2 separate regions of the Homo sapiens genome follow, and region 1 is linked to region 2. Evidence: fine-mapped expression QTL. A gene starts in region 2. The other region holds a variant in brackets. All regions are shown on one strand. Distances are between the middles of the regions. Region 1 has its middle 12 kb from the start of LINC03029. Region 2 holds the start of GDF10 (growth differentiation factor 10).

What was found. PIP is the estimated chance that this variant, and not a neighbour inherited with it, causes the effect.
Region 1: its variant is fine-mapped to the expression of GDF10 in whole blood (INTERVAL, PIP 0.93).

The regions. Positions count from the first base shown.
Region 1 is chr10:47,400,020-47,405,389 of GRCh38, forward strand. No RefSeq gene overlaps it. Among named protein-coding and RNA genes, the nearest start is that of LINC03029, 12 kb to the right of the region's middle. The variant C/A (reference allele first, on the strand shown) is at 2,489.
Region 2 is chr10:47,298,117-47,303,486 of GRCh38, forward strand. It overlaps GDF10 (growth differentiation factor 10), which reads left to right and starts at 2,081. Exons shown (of 3, transcript NM_004962.5): 1 at 2,081-2,854. The coding sequence starts at 2,536.

The DNA of each region.
Region 1 (5,370 bases), 100 kb after region 2:
TTATTCGAGCATCTCGACAACTTTTTGCAGGGAAAATCATTTCACAACCAGCAGGATGCAGAAAATGCTTTCCAAGAGTTTGTCCAATCCCAAAGCATGGATTTTTACACTGCAGGAATAAACAAATTTGTTTCTCATTGGCAAAAATGTGTTGATTGTAATGGTTTCCGTTTTGATTAATAAAGATGTCTTTGAGCCTAGTTATAATGATTTAAAATTCACAGTCTGAAACTGTAGTTACTTTTGCCCCAATGGAGGCAGGCAGTGACATTCCCTGTGGAGCTTGATCCTCAGGCAAGGGAGGACCAGGTTCCCACAAGGGAATGTCACTACCTGCCTCTGTTGGTGCATCTGCCTCTGGGTGTGGGCCTCAGCAAGCTGTGAGTGCAGATCCCACACTTGGTGAGCACAGTGGGAGGGAGGCTGTGGGGCTAGGGGCTGCTTAGCTGGTACCCTGGGTATGGCCAGGCTTTCTCTGAGCTCATGCTTGTCTCAGGGCACTCAGGCTTTGGAGAGCTTATGAAGGGCCCTGCCTGGATCCTCCATGGTGGGGTCAGTAGCCCCCCTGACCCCAGTCCCAGTGGAGTAGGTGAGGAAGAACAGACATCTGCCTACCAGACAGACGCGCCTCACAGCTATGGAAATTGTGACAAATTGCTTGACCGTTCAGAGCCTCAAGTTTTTCATCTGTAAAATGAAAATAATACAGTATGCAGATTTAGATGCAGGCTAGAGGAGGCAGTGGAACAGTGGAGGGGAGAAGGCTGCTCTTGGATGCATGAGAACTACCACATACAAGCATGATGTTCAGGAGGCAAACATTTATAGACATGGTCATTGCTGGAGGGGAGAAGAGCCTCCTGGTAGGCTCCCCTGAGTACATAATACACAAAAGACCATAAAGCAACACAGATACAGAGAAAGGACTCAGATGAGGGCACCAGCCTTAGTTTTAACTGATACCATCTCCAGGACCTTGGACAAAACACTTAATTCACAGGCCTCACATTTTCCCTGCAAAACTTGAAATATTTCCCATTTCTGCCAAGCTGTACCTACCGATGGAGCTGTGGGATTGCAAAGACCTTTGCGTCTTGGGCGGGTAGGGCAGATGTGATTGATCCCCACCTAGATGGAAGTCTCACAAGGCTCCAACCCCCTTCAAGCTCCTTACTCTGTGTCTGGGGACTAAGTGGGAGAATATTAGCAGTAAGATCTGGAAGTCAGGACAATAAGGGCATGTGGCTCTCCCTGATGCTGGGGAAATGATGACGCCAGGACAGCAGTGGCCAGGTGTGCTTCTTCCCTCCCCAGTGGTGTCTGCTGGAGAAGGCTCTCCATGCCCAGAGCGGCTTGGCTTTGCAAGCTTATAAGAAATATGGGAGGCAAAATGGCCCAAAGTGCACATCCTCCCTTGCCTGAGGCCCAGGCTCCCACAGGGAATGTCACTACCTCCCTCTGTGGGTGCTGGGAAATGTGGGACAGTGAGCAGGATCTGGAGGTGTCATGAATAGGGTTAGCAGGTCACACACAGGCTGCCAGAAGGATCCCCAACCGAAGGGTCCGGTCTGATGTCCAAGAATCCAAGAGTCCAACAGAGGAATGATGGACCAGGTCTGGGTCTGTTGTTCTCAAGGGGCGTCTGATGGACCGTGATTCCCAAGAGCTCTGCCCTATCCAATCACAGATGGTTGGGGATGGATAAACCCCCCGGGTAAGTGGGAGCAAGGAGAGCCAGCATATCAGAATTGCTCAGGGCTTTTCAGCTGGGACATCCTCCCACAGTTCTTATCTACACGGCCCCCAGCTAAGGTAACCAGTCAGCTATCCTCCTAGTCAGCTGACTATGGTAATAGTCAACTATTAGCAAAAAATGTACCTCATCCCTGAAAGCCTGTTGGTCCCAGACAGACAGGTCTGGGTGGTCACCCTAATGAAAGTCACCACCCAGATGATCCACTGTGGTTGCTGGGGGTGTACCCCAGCCAAAGCTCTGCTGGGGTCGGGGGAGCTTGTTAAGAGACTGCTAGGAGGCTGGAGTGGACAGACACCTGCCCACCAGACAGATGCGCCTCAACTCCCTAACACAGGTCTCCTTTGTTTTCAGGCCCAGCAGCCTGGATTCCTGCCTTGACCTTTATGGCTCTGCAATACAGAAGAGATTGCAGAGAAATAAGTAAAGTGAGGCTGCAGCCTTCCCTGCACTGCAGGAAGCTTTTCCTCTGGCAGGTAGAAAGCACAACCCATCAGATTGGGTGGGCGTGGGAGTTCCTCGGTGGGGGACACAGAGCACAAAGTGGCATTCTGAAACAGGAATGAGGCCAGCGCTCACTGGTTCCATTGGATCTCGGCAGCCTTGGCTGGCTCCTGCCTGTGAGCCCTGGGAATACTTGAGCCCCAAGTTTGCCCTTGGGGACATCGCAGGCTGGGAAGGGACATTAGGTAGGTAAATCAGTGACTCAGTCCCGGAACCCTGGGTTATGCACTG[C/A]CGAGGGTTCAAGGAAAGGGACAAAGAACTCACATGGAAGGTTAAAGGAAAAAGCAGGAACTCCTAACGACAAAGTCAAGAGTGGCTTCCAGGGATGTGGGTCTTTGAACTGGGTCTTGCAGGATGGAAAAGACAAAACACTTAATTCACAAGCCTCACATTTTCCCTGCAAAACTTGAAATATTTCCCACCACAGGGGACCTGTGGTGGAGTGAGTGGTCTTGCTTGGCTTAGCTTGCTGAGCTAATGAGGTTAGCTCAGGCAGGGCTGGGAGAGGGCTGGGAAGGTCAGTTTGAGGCCAAAGCCACAGGGGCTCATTATGCCAGGCCAAGGAGCTGAGATTTCCTGCTGTGAGCCATAGACAGCCAGAGAAGGCTCTTGAGCAGAGGAGTGGGATGATCAAGGTGGCACTTAAGGAAGAAAAGTCTGATGACTGTGGGTAAAATGAATGGGCAACAAGGGCAGGATCCATGGGGAGCTCCGCTGGGGATGTATGGCAGCACTGTCGCTGAGGGCCACTGAGGGCCAGCCGGCAGGAAGGAGGGTCAGGGAGAGGAAAGGAAGGCTGTGTGCATGGCTGCCAATAGGATGAGTCACTCCTCTGGGATGAAGGAGGAATGAGGGAGAGGAGGGGGAGGAGGGAATGGGGTGAAGAGGCAAAGAATTTTCCAGTAGAAGGGAGGCCAGCTGGGAGGGCTGTGTGTGCATCTCCCTACTTGTTCAGCATGGGGGGTGTGTGTGTGTGTCCATGTGTGACTGTGTGTGTGGTATGCATGCATGTTTGCGCATGTGTGTGCGTGCATGTGTGTGTATGTGTACGTGGTGTGTGTGAGTTTGAGTTTCTTTGGGGTGTGTTGGGATTGTGGGGATGCAGCAAGTTGCCATCCTGACTTTCTTTTGTGGATCCCTCGTCTCCACAGGCCTCAGAGTCCACTGCATTTATCTCACTTCCCTGTGTCCAGCAAGGGGCCCCAAGATGGAAGAGTTGGGGTGGGAGGTGGGGAGTGGGCCTCACCGCCCTGGCTATGCTTGGGTCCAGTGCAGCCAGTGCCTCTGGCTTCTCAGGGCCATGTGCTTCCTCCCCAGCCTGAGAATGTAGCTGTCTTTCATCACCTACTCCACGGAGGGCAGCATCGTCCCACAGCTCACATTCACCCCAGGCAGGGGAGTGCTGCTTTGAGCCCCCAACGGAGGCCTGAGAGGCTGGGCCAGAGGGAGCTCCAGAGAGCTGTGGGGCTCCCTGAGACCTTGGTTGGGAGCCTGACAGCACACAGGGCAGGCTGCTCAGGGCATCTCACAGTACCCACCCTGACCCCAATGCCTGTTCCCCTGAACCCTCTGACCCCTGGTTGCACTGTTACCTGTAGCCCCTGTGCTCCCGAATTTCTTGGCCTCCCTGACCTTCTCTGTCCCCTGTCCTCCCTCTGCCCTACCTCCTTCCCCAGAGTGCGGGGGCTGGTGGGCAGGTGTGTGTGTCCTGTGAACACCTGCCTGTGCTGGCTGCTGCTCTCTGTGTGCCCCTCTCTGCTCTGGCCTTCTCTATGGGAGGGAGACAGGGTCAGGGTAAGGGGGAGTGCTGGAGAGTTTAGTGCAGAAGAGCTTGGTCCCCTGGTGGGTCTCAGACAGGGGAGACCATGGGTGGGGTCCTGAGCCCCAGGCCAGGCTGGGGAGCTGGAGGAAGGCAGGAGGAGCAAGCTCAGGCAGCTGGAGTTGGCCTAGAGGGGTGCCCAGGCCCAGCAGGAGGCACTGCAGAGCTCCTGATTGGCAGGAGGTAAGAACACTTCTGATGCAAATGCCTGGAACTGGGCACTAAGAGGGTGAAGCACAGAAGAGAGCCGAGGATCCTGAGGACTGGATGGGGGCCTGGGCCCCACTTACAGCTTTGAGGAAGAGCTGGGACGGGGCTTCTGCTCCCTGAGCTGGGGGAAGGCTTGAGTTTGTGCATAATGTGCTGTGGGTTTGGGAGAGGGAGACCTAGGTGGGCATGAGGGCGAAGAAAGCAAGTTCACGGGGAAGGACTCTGGGTGGTGGCCCAGAGGGGCAGCAGGGGCTGGGCAGGGCCTGGCCTCCTTCCCTCCTGGGCTGAGGCTCTCAGAGCTCCCCCACATGGCAGGGACTCTCTTCCTGCAGTGCGAAGCCAGCCTTCAGGGTCCATGCTTGGCCCAGCCTTGCTGTGCTGGCTCAGCCTGTCACATTGGATTAGCCTGTCCCAGTCCTGCCATCAGAGCCAGCTCTGCCTGGCCCAACCAGTCCTGTCTGCTTTAACAGAGGCTGACAGGCCACATCCCCGAGCCAGCCTGCCGTGCTCAGCTGCCTGCACACCCTTTGGGGCCGCTTCTTTCAGCCTTTGGTCTTTTGGTTTCGGGAGCACAGGAAGTCAAGGAGCCATAGCACTCTTATTAAGCAGATTTGCTACTTTGGTAGGATAAAGAGAGTGGAGGAGATTGAGTCAGGGTCAGGGGTCTGGAGTTGTGGGTGCTGGGTGCAGGGCTGGGGGCTTAGCAGGATGCCTTTTCCGAACTCAGCCCTGCCTTTTGAAGGATACGTTGCCCAACACAAGGGAAGCCCTTAGGGTTAGGTTTAGGATTAGGATTAGAGTTAAGATTAGGAATGCCAGTCCCATTGCCTGTCCCTGAATCTCAGTTGCATGCCTTTGGATTAGGGTTAGGGTTAGGGGTTAGGGGTTAAGGGTTAGGGGTTAGGGTTAAGAAAGCTGGTCCCATTGGAAGGGCCTGATTTGTAGTCACACATCTATGGGATGCTCCCATTTCACCATGGAGGGTTCATGCTGGGCCTTTATGAGCTCTCCAAAGTCTAAGTGCCCTGAGACAGGCATGAGCTCAGGGAAAGCGAGGCTATACCCAGGGTACCAGCTAAGCAGC
Region 2 (5,370 bases):
CGCTGTTCAGCAATAAAATGAGGCAAGAAATATTAGCCATCCCTGGCTGATGCCTTAATTCTTTCCCAACAATGTCAGAGAATCTGTACCCTACAGGTTTTAGTGCTGGCTAAAGCCTGACCCTCAGGCTGGCTTGAATGGAGCGGGAATGAGTTAAGGAGAGCCAGAAGGCTTTAATGGACACGGATTCCAAATAGCCCAGCTTGTGCGGGCCTCCTGCGGACTCACCCTCCTTTTCAACAGGCCTCGATTGTGTATGGCCCCAACAGACACAAAACTACCCATGAGCAGAGGTTACCCCCAGCCGGTGCAGGTCAGAGGCATTCTGGGGGGGAAGGGGAGAGGGGGACAGAGGGGAAGTGAGGGGCACATGGAGAAGGAGGGAAATGGGGGTGGGAGTGGGGGAAGGGACCACTGAAAGATGGTCTGGATCATTTATAAGGAGAGATTCACTAAGTCCCAGGCTGAGACCCGATCATCTCACTTCCAGGCAAACCATTTTTGAAAACTGGTTCAGAACAAATGGGAGCTATCCTAATGGGAAGTTGAACACACTGTGATCTAATTTTCAAAACAAATAAAATGCTTTTCTCTGGTTTTCCAAAAGCTACAAGTCTGAGGTTCAGAAGCTCTTAATAGGATGGCCTCTAATTTGACACTGCAAGATTTTAAAAAATTACAAATGGGTCATGTTTTACACACCAACAGAAGCCTTTTCCAGCAATTTTTCAATTATTGCATTGTGAGCCCTCCAAGAAAAGTAACTATTTTGGCTCACAGAGCCCAAAGTTACCAAGTAAAGGGAACAGCCTGTTCACAAGTTTGCAAATAGTCCTTTGAAATGTAGCATAGACTGTATCTGGGAGCTTTCTGGAAGAACATGGGCTTGACGTGGTCCTTTCCTTCCCTCTCAAGGGTCCTTAAACTTTTTAGGTGGGTCTTGGGCCCCCTTCTAAGTCTAGGGAAGCCAGTGGACCCCTTCTTAAAAGAATGTTTTTAAATGCATAAAATAAAATATGCAGAGTTACAAAGGAAGACAATTACGTTAGAATAGAGTTATCACAAATATTTAAAAACAATTTTGTAACATAGTAACTATGTTCCTTTTTGCTAACTAACTAGCAGTAGGCCTAACTGAAGTGGTAATGAGCAAACATGATACTTTGATGAATCCGCAACCACTCTCATGTGATATGAAAATATCTGTGGATGGTGCCTATTGGTGACAAAGTCACTAATACCACTGTGGTTGGTTGCTTGCATTTATAACATTAGTTAATGCTAAGTTTCAGTTAGAGTTAATGAAAATAAAGATGTATTTTTTTCCCCATCAAGTTCATAAGAGCCCTTGAATTCTATCAATGGAGAAGAAATCCTGCTAGAGGCAAGACAAAGATCAGGACCTTCTGCCCCAGGGTTAAGCTGAGGGGCAGTGGGCCAGGGACTCACTACACCCTCACTTCACTGGGAATCCTTCTTAGGAAAGCCACTGCTTTCTCTCTTCCTGCTCTGATGCTTTGGAAATGTTTTTAAAGGCAAATTGAAAGCATGTCTTATTCCTGCAATCCTGAAGGCCACATGTCCAAAGATTAATAAGGACCTTTGATGTGTTTCTTCAACAACTGAAATTACTCTCGTCAAATAAAGGGCTGGTTAATGAGCTAATTCTGAGTTTTAATCACGATCTTGTTCCAGTTCCCTTGGGTGGCATGAGCTTTGGGGTGAGGGCTTTTCTTTACGGAGTCAGCCCAGAGAGGATCTCTGTTCCCCACACTCTCACATTTTGGACATACGCTGACTCCGAGGCAACTGGGCGCACACATATCCCCTCTCTGGTCCTCACAGGGGAGCTGTCATCTTGCAATCACATAGCCATCGCATGCCATTGCAGGGGCAACCCAGCAGGCAGGCCCCCCTCCAACTGCCGCCCAGCCCCCCTCGCAGCCAGGGCAGGCTGCGGCGCCGACACACAGGAGCCGGCTGCGGGGCTGGGTCTCGGGCTCTCGGCTGGGGAGCGGGGAGCGCGCTCGCCCACGCCCCCCACACTCGCGGGCGCACACCCCGGCGCGCGCACGCTGCCACACACGGGCGCACGCACACGGCAGCCGGGCCAGGGACGACCCTGTCAGCTGCAGCCCCAGAGGTCCGGGGCGCGCAGCCGGGTCCCCTCGAGGGCGCAGCCGGCCGCCCCGCCCCGCCCCTCGAAGCAGCCGGGCCGGGCGCGCAGTGGGCTACAAACTTTCGCGGCGCGAGTCCGCCAAGGCAGCGCGCCGACTCGGGCTCGGCTCGGCTCTGCGCTGCTCCGGACGGCTGTGACCGCTGGCCGGGGGCTCGGGCCGCCGGTACCCACGGACCGCGCGCCCGGGTGCCTGCTCCGCTAAGCCCCTCGCCCCGCGCGGACCTCGGTATCCAGCGCCCTGCTGCCCGGGCTCTCCCCGCGCGCCCTACTGCCGCGAGGTCAGTCCGCAGCCTCCGGTGCGCCAGCGCTCGCCTTCCTCCTCCTGGACTTCGGCCCTTTGCCGCCCTCACCACGCCATGGCTCATGTCCCCGCTCGGACCAGCCCGGGACCCGGGCCCCAGCTGCTGCTGCTGCTGCTGCCGTTGTTTCTGCTGTTGCTCCGGGATGTGGCCGGCAGCCACAGGGCCCCCGCCTGGTCCGCACTGCCCGCGGCCGCCGACGGCCTGCAGGGGGACAGGGATCTCCAGCGGCACCCTGGGGACGCGGCCGCCACGTTGGGCCCCAGCGCCCAGGACATGGTCGCTGTCCACATGCACAGGCTCTATGAGAAGTACAGCCGGCAGGGCGCGCGGCCGGGAGGGGGCAACACGGTCCGCAGCTTCAGGGCCAGGCTGGGTAAGTAGAGGGTGCCCCAGGACCCCTTCTCCTCATTCTCCACCTTCCTCACTTTTCTGTCTCCCCACCCGTGCACCTCTACTTTTCCTCTTCTAGCCAACGGGTGAGTGGTTCATTCATTCTTTCACTAATGATTCACTGATCTCTCCATGCCAGGCCCTGAACCTCCAGTGGGGCACCAAGAGTGGCAGCAGGTGGCACAGAGGTCCTGCCCCTGGGGTGCTCCCACATTGCTGGACATACACAGACTACCCCATACACAAGGCTGTAAGCACAGAGAGTGGAAGAGGGGACATAGGCCAGGGGAGTATCCCTGTCATAGGGTCAATTATGTGGGCATTTTACAAATGAGAAGGGCACAGCCAGTGAACATAGGCAGCCCTGCAGAAGCTCCAGGCACTGGGCCCTGTCAGGAAGCAGGAGCCCCTAGCTGGCGTCAGCTATGGTTCCTGTGTCCAGGGAAGCAGAGTGGACTGAGAAGGGCCTTGGCTGCCCGGGATTGAGGACTTCCACGGACTGGCATGAAGCGTTCAGACCACAGGGGTTTAAGGAAAGGCCCAGGGGCTTAGGCAGTGGGAACACTCTGCCTATCTCCGGCCTCTGTCCCACCTTTCCACTTCCTCAGCCCCTTGGATGGAGCTGGGCAGAGGGCACTTGCAAAGGCCCATGCTGCCCTGTTCTGAGAGCACTTCCAGGCTCCTGCCTCAGCAGCCTGCCCACCTTTGCAGGCCCTGGGTAGAGAGGAGGTGCAGCCAGGGCCACAGGGGTGGTGAGAAGACCCTGGTTGTCATGGTGATTACTCCTGGTTGCAGAATAATGTTCCAGAAAATGTGGGTGGGGGTCTCCTGCAGCTCTGCAGAAGATGAGGCCATTCAACAGGAGAAAAATCTGCAGTCTACAGGCTCCCCTCCTGAGGGAGAGGGAAACAAGCCTAGCTGTGGAGCTAGACAGCCTGGGGTCAGATCTGTCACTGGCTGTGTGACTCAAGGTAACATCTGTGGCCTCTCATAACCATGGATTGGGGAGCACCTGCCACAAAGAGGCCCCATGCCCTCCTCCTCCACTTAGCAGACTCACCAGGTCAGTGGCCCTGGGCTCCAGGCCAATTGGATCTAACTCCATCCTCACTCATAACTTTCTTGCACCATGTGGGGTCCATTTCTTGAGGAACGTTATTAAATTAAACCATTTAAGAATCATCTGGCATGAACATGACCTTGGGTAAATCACTAAAGCTAGGTGGACTTGAGTGTATTCATCGATAAAATGGGCAAGGCTTGCCAATATCTCCCCTGTGCAGTTGAAGGGAAGATGAAATGAGGTCATATGTGCAAGCTCAGAGCCCAGCACTGGCCAGATTAAGTGTTGATGTACGGGATTCCCCTGGGAGCACAAATAATCGTGCTAAGTATTGTGTATTCCTGTGGGTTTAAACTTGACCTTGCTTCTCTATTAACTCAATCCTCAAAGCCTTGTAGTTGAGGAAGCAAGGCCAGCAGGGTCACTGCTGCGACACGGGTGAGCCTGCCCACTGAGCCCATCTACTTGCTGCAGCCAGGCATGGAGATGCCTTCTTGTGTCATTCTGTTTTCACAGAAAGGGGGTAGTACAAGTAGCAGTGGAGTTCAGGTTATTAATCTCAAAAAGGACCTGAAGACAGTATCTCAAATCCAGCACTCCCACTTTAAAGATAAGGAAACTGAGACTCAGTGGTTGTTCACAGTGGCAGGGGTTGGCAACTCCCATCTGCCAGGTCATTGCTGTTCTCACTGTCACTCCCCACACCCTGTCATCTCCCTCAGAGCTATGACCAGGGTCTGGGAGGGGTAGGGTGAAACAGACAAGCCTGGGAAATCAGGATTCTGGTAGTCTGGAGTGTCTGACAAATCCCTCTTCTTTGGAAGCCTGAGGCACATTTGGGTGTGAATCCCAGCTGTACCAGCTACCAGGTGTGTGCAGTGGCACAGGTTAGTTTACCTCTCTGAGCATCAGTTTCCTTGTAGTACAGTGAAGAAGTGAGGATTAAATGGGCTAAGCAGGTTTTGTGCTTTGCATACAGTGGGGGCCCAGGCAGGTTGCTTGATCCTCTCCTCCCTTGATTCATCTGAGTGTTTCATGCCAAGCCTCTTGCCTGCCCTCAGATGTGCCTACTTCCTGATCCAGTGACCTGTCTGAGGAGGTATGAGTTTGGGCAGGGACCCTTCTCTCATGGATGATGCCACCCATGTGGGAGGCTTCAGCTCTGGTCCGAGAACATGCCAGTCTCAGCCTGCTCCCCAGTGGTGGGTTTCTGCTGCCTCAGTGGGGCAGCACCTCTTCCTGAACAACAAATGCCTCCATCCCCACAGCCTGCGATACGTAACTATACCTCCCCCGCCACCGGGCAGTGCAGCTCAGCTGCCAAGTGCTGGCTGTGAGCTGGCCTCGTGGGGTCCAAATCCCAATTCTGCGATCTGGGCAAGGGACTGAACTTGTCCATGACTCAGTTTTTTTCACTTCTAAAATGGAGCTAATAG